2 separate regions of the Homo sapiens genome follow, and region 2 is linked to region 1. Evidence: fine-mapped expression QTL. A gene starts in region 1. The other region holds a variant in brackets. All regions are shown on one strand. Distances are from middle to middle.

Region 1 (2,915 bases):
GCCCACTTCCACTTATCACAGGACCAGTTCTAAACCGATACCACTAAGAAAGCGACTGGCGCTGGCACTGTAGACCCCATGCCAGGCTGCTTCTGGGAGGGACCCGGGGGTGCTGCCTAGGGAGAAGGGCTTAACTACTCTGACTTCCACCGAAGAGTTTCTCAGAGAATGCGCCCTCGCAGCTTTCCCTGAATAAACATTACCAGGACTTACAAGGTGCCTAGCACTCTGCCAGAATCATGTGAATTTCAGAGGAAAATACTCGTTCACACATCTCAAGGAACGCACAGGCTCGTGAGGGAGCATTCTTGCCAATGCACATGGTAAATGCCCAATCGATGTTCGCGGAATGTCAGAAACTGACAACTAGTTCAGGCCTCAACGCAGTAGGAAAAGGATGAAAAAGAAACTCATTTTAAATCAACTAAACAAGTGCAAAAGCCATACATATAAAGGAGAGGAGATACGAATGGCATCACAACATAATTCCTTTGCCATCGAAAACTTCCATGCCTTTGAGGTTTTAAATGAAGACTTCCAAAACTGATTTACTTAAGACTCTACGTAAAACGCCTGATCTTTAAACGCAAGAAAAGCAAGATGAATGTATTACTTTCCTGGAAAAAAAAAGCATTAAAGGAGAAAAAAGAGTAAAGTGTACTGATGGGGCTCTTGGTGGGTTCTCACATCACAGGGCACTGCAGCTGAGACTTGCTTGAACGGCCCCCGTTTTCTACCCGCAAATTCTCAATTGCTAGATAAACAACAATAACAACACTTTATTGGGCGCTCATCGTGTCAAACCCTGTGTTGAGGGCTCCATTCCTCAAGGTCCATTTTACCGGCGAGGAAGCCCCGGCTCCGGGAGGGGAGGAGCGCGCCCAAGGTCACCAGCCAGTTGAGTGAGTGGCGGGCGGATCCCAACCCCGAGCGACGCCCACGGCCTGTCTCGGCCACCAGCGTGTTCCAGCGAGCGCCCAGCCACCTCGCTCGCAGCCTCCCCAGCGCAGCAGCCCGGCTGTGGGCCTGCGGCAGCCGGGTCTTCCTGGTCCCCACCTCCTGGGGCCGACGGGCGGCAGGAAGGGGCTCGGCGGGACGCGCCATCAGGGACCTGAGGAGGAACAACGGAACGCGTTCGGAACGGCCTGGACTCCCGAGACTCACCCGACTCGTGGCCACACCGGGAGAACTGAAGCGGCAGTAGCCGGCGGAGACGCCCGACCCGAAGGCCGGCTGCTAGGGAGCAGACAGCTGAACCGCTTGCCAGACGCCGAAACCCAGTGACGCCCTCCACCGCTCCACCGTGCTCCCGGCTCCTCGCCCCCGCCGCCCGCGGGCCCCAAGGCGCATGCGCCGCCTGTCCTGGAGGGGCCCATTTCCGTCCGTCGTGGGGGGAGGCACAGTGAGTCCACTGGGGCACGGCAGCGTCTAAGCCACAAGCCGAGCACATAAGCCAGGTCCTAACGGAGCCTATGTGTAAGTCCACTACTGGTGCAAGGTTGCACACTTCTAAGAAGAGCGGCGTGGGGGGCTCGGCGACCTTCGCTTCAGTCGCTCCCCCGTGCAGTCCCCTGTGCCCAAGACACAGCCTGATGCTTGTGCTCCGGTGGGCGGAGCTTGGAGGCGGCGGGAACTGCAATTGGTGGCTTTGAAGGCGCGGCGAGCGGGAACAGCTCTTGAGGAGTGAGACTGCAGGAGATGTGGGCCGGTAAGAGAGCCCCGGGCGGCACTGGATCGGGCCCCGGAGGGTGTGGGGCCTTGAGGAAGCCAGATCCCAGGCCTCGGGGGTGGCTTTTTCGCAATTGTCGCACGTTGTGAGGCGCAGGATTGGCGCTGGGTCTCGGGCTCGGGGCGAGGAACTACGGTTCGGGCCGAGGTGAGGGGGCGGTGGCGCTGTGCCGGCTGTGACGTCACCTCGCCCGCGGTGGGGCGGGTGGAGCCTTTCGTAGGCTCGCGACTGCGTCAGGGGAGGGCCGTGTGGTCATGTGACCAGGGGCTCCGCTCTACGATCCTGGGGTTGCTTCCTTTCCCAGAGTTGGGGTTTTGCTTTTCTGTCACCTCGGCTTCCGTCGTTTTTTGTCCCTGTACCCTCTTGCGTTGCTCCTCGCATTGCCTGTTGGAGCGCAGCAGAGGTGTGTGGCTACGGGAACGTTACTTAAAATGGATCTTTTTGATCATGCGTTCCACAGATCTTGAGCATCTACTGTATGTCAGACACTAAAACGCTAGGAAGTATAAAGAAAGTTTTAAAATGGGGCCAGGCGCGGTAGTTTACGCCTGTAATCCCAACACTTTGGGAGACCGACGTGGGCGGATCACCTTAGGTCAGGAGTTCGAGACCAGCCTGGCCAACATGGTGAAACCCCGTCTCTACTAAAAATACAAAAATTAACCGGACGTGGTATCGGGTGCCTGTAATCCCAGCTATTTGGGAGGCTGAGGCAGGAGAAGCGCATGAACCCGGGAGGCGGAGGTTGCAGTGACCCGAGATCGCGCCACTGCACTGCACCCTGGGCGACAAAGCGAGACTGTGTCTCCGAAACAACAAAAAAAGGAAAGTTTAAAAATGGTCACGGGGTAAACGTTTACTAAAGGGATTTCCGTCTTAATTGGTGAGACTGAGGGCGCTCTACCAAATTTCTTTAGACTGGCGTTCTGCAAACTTTACCCGGAATAAATCATCTGACGTACTTTTTAAAAGATGCTAAATCTCAAGCCCTCCGTGCGCCCTCCTCACAGTTTAATTTGATAGGGCCCAGGAATCTTCATTTTAACGGGTAGCCTCGTCTGTGGGTTTTTTTGTTTGTTTTTTGTTTTTTTGAGACGGAGTCTTGCTTTGTCGCCCATGTTGGAGGGCAGTGGCACGTTCTCGGCTCACTGCAACCTCCTCCTCCCGGATTCAGGCTGTTCTCTTG
Region 2 (2,832 bases), 42 kb before region 1:
GACTCCGTCTCAAAAAAAAAAAAAAAAAAGACCAAAATAAATGTTAAGCATTTAAAAAAAACTGACGTTCTGAGTCCTTTTCTCAGAGAAGCACATATTCTGACAAGTTATATTCTAGATGAAATTGCTTCTTGACTCTAAGCATCTAGGACTCTTTAAAAAAATTATTATAAAAATGTTCAAGCATTCATTAGAGACAAATGTAAAAAAAAAACTTTATGAATCTATCATCCAGTTTCAACAGTTACCAACACATAGCCAATCTTGTTTCATTAATCCCCCTGCACCCACTCTGTTTGCTGGTAATTTAAAGTAAATCCCACACATCTATCATTTTCCCTGTAAATACTTCAAGGCATCTTTAACTAGTAAGGATTTTTTTAAAACATAATCACAATGCCATTACTATGCTTAACAAAATGACAGCAATTTCTTAACATCATCTGAAACCCAATCATACTCAAATTTCTCCAACTGTCTCAAAGATGTCTTTTTTCAGTTGGTTCGTTCCCATCAGAATCCACACAAGATTCACACATTGCATTTGGTTATGTTCTTAAATCTCTTAATCTAAAGCATACATTGAATCCCTCTCCCTCTTCTTTTTTATGCTACTTATTTGCTAAGACAATTGAGTCATTTGTCCTATAGAATATCACACACGTTTTGGATTTCTGTGGTAACGTGTTTCTCTAGCCTTCAGAAAGTGAAAGTTAATTCTAGAAGTTTGATTAGTTTCAAAAATAATATGGTAGTCATTTCATTTAAAAAAATAAGAGGAGGCATGCAATATGTAGCAGTCTTTGAATGATTTAATAATTTTAAGATTTATCACTGAGTTCAGGGTTCACTGGTGTGATTCATCCAATTTTATACCTTCCTACTATCCACTTTCTCTTCCACCTAATGGTTTCAAACACCCACTGATAATTTTAAACATCACTCACCCATTATTGTATTAGGAGCTGAAAATGATGCTTTGTAACTTGTTTTTT[G/GT]TTTTTTTTTTAGCCAGGGTCTCACTCTGTCACCCAGATTGGAGTGCAGTAGTGCGATCTTGGCTCACTGCAACCTCCGCCTCCCAGGTTCAAGTGATTCTCACACCTCAGCCTACCTAGTAGCTAGGACTACAGGTGCTCACCACCACACTCAGCTAATTTTTGTATTTTTAGTAGAGACGGGGTTTCACCATGTTGGCCAGGCTGAGAACTTTATTTTTATTATTCAGCATAAGAAGGTATAAAGTACTGATCATGTCGCGATCTGGATGAACCTTGAAAATATTATGCTTGGTGAAAGAAGCCAATCACAAAAGAGCACATATTTAACTAAAGCTTCCGTTTATATAATATGTCTGGAAGATAGGCAAATCCATAGAGACAGAAAACATATTAGTATTTGCCTAGGGCTGTGAAGGCGAAAGAGAATGGGGTGTGATTGCTAAGGAGTACAGGGCTTCTTTTGGCGTGAATGAAAAAAAAAAAAAAAAAAAACATATATATATATATATATATATATATATATATATATATATATGTTTTTTTTTTTTTTTTTTTTTTTTGAGACGGAGTCTCGCTCTGTCGGCCAGGCTGGAGTGCAGTGGCGCGATTTCTGCTCACTGCAAGCTCTGCCTCCCGGGTTCACACGATTCTCCTGCCTCAGCCTCCTGAGTAGCTGGGACTACAGGCGCCTGCCACCATGCCTGGCTAATTTTTTTGTATTTTTAGTAGAGACGGGGTTTCACCGTGTTAGCCAGGATGATCTTGATCTCCTGACCTTGTATATTTTAAACTTGGGTTGTGGTGATGTTTGGACAATTTTGTGAATATAATAAAAACCATTTATTCAATGATTGAGTTTCATGGTATATGAATTATATCTCAAGAAATATGTTAAAAAGAACTTTATGGGCTGGGCGCAGTGGCTCGCGCCTGTAATCCCAGCGCTTTGGGAGGCCGAGGTGGGTGGATCATTTGAGGTCAGGAGTTCGAGACCAGCCTGGCCAACATGGTGAAAACCGTCTCTACTAAAAATACAAAAAAATTATCTGGGCAGTAGTGGCATGCACCTGTAATCCCAGCTACTTGGTGGGGCTGAAGCAGGAGAATCGCTTGAGCTTGGGAAGTGGAGGTTGCAGTGAGCCAAGATCATGCCACGGCACTCCAGTCCGGGCAACAGAGACCCTGTCTCAAAATAAATAAATAAATAAATAACTTTCTCTCAGTCATCCATTTGGTTATGGTTATTTTCAATAGTTTATGCCAGAAAGTTTGGACAAATATTTTGTTTTCCTTTCACAGTAATGAGTTGGATACCCTAACAACCTTCAGTGATGTTAACGCCTTTCAAAGCATTTTTATGAACTCATGGATATTTACGTATTCAATGCGTATAAATCTATTGCATTCACTATTCTTTTCGATGTAAGCATTGTTTCACCTGTGGCCACTGGGCACTCCTTCAAGGTAGCTCCTGGGTCTTATTGACAGGACCCCAGCAGTCTTTGATGCTTCCCCTGCTTTCTGGCATAAGATAGCTCAGGTTCAACATGACATTTACTGCCCAAGAGCTGGAATCAGCCACTTCTCCAAAGAGACCTGGTTTTTAGTGGGCAATGGTATTAGGAAGCATAATCTGAGTGCTAAGGATGCTAATTGCTACTGAGGTGTCATTGCTTCAAAGACCTTTTCAGTGGACAGAATTAGGAAATACTTCTTAAAAAAAATAATGAATTCAAAGTACTATTTCCAATTCAAATTTAATGCATGTTTTGACTTGAATTTTACACTTGTATCTTGTTTTGGTCTTAGGTTGAAAATCTTGGTTTCTACTGAC

Alleles and levels. Positions count from the first base shown, and alleles are read on the strand shown. Sizes are in standard deviations (SD) of each study's normalised expression.
As copies of GT replace G in region 2, the expression in fetal neocortex of the gene that starts at base 1,316 in region 1 goes up (moderate effect, 0.43 SD a copy in Walker 2019).

Evidence for each region. PIP is the estimated chance that this variant, and not a neighbour inherited with it, causes the effect.
Region 2: its variant is the best candidate, but not a certain one, in a credible set for the expression of CMC2 in fetal neocortex (Walker 2019, PIP 0.83).

The regions. Positions count from the first base shown.
Region 1 is chr16:81,005,570-81,008,484 of GRCh38, forward strand. It overlaps CMC2 (C-X9-C motif containing 2), which reads right to left and starts at 1,316. Exons shown (of 4, transcript NM_020188.5): 1 at 1,165-1,316. CENPN (centromere protein N) reads left to right here and starts at 1,645. Exons shown (of 11, transcript NM_001100624.3): 1 at 1,645-1,708. RefSeq lists a silencer at 1,054-1,423 and enhancers at 1,594-1,703, 2,014-2,153.
Region 2 is chr16:80,963,712-80,966,543 of GRCh38, forward strand. CMC2 (C-X9-C motif containing 2) reads right to left here. Exons shown (of 4, transcript NM_020188.5): 4 at 2,737-2,832. Among named protein-coding and RNA genes, the nearest start is that of CMC2, 42 kb to the right of the region's middle. The variant G/GT (reference allele first, on the strand shown) is at 996.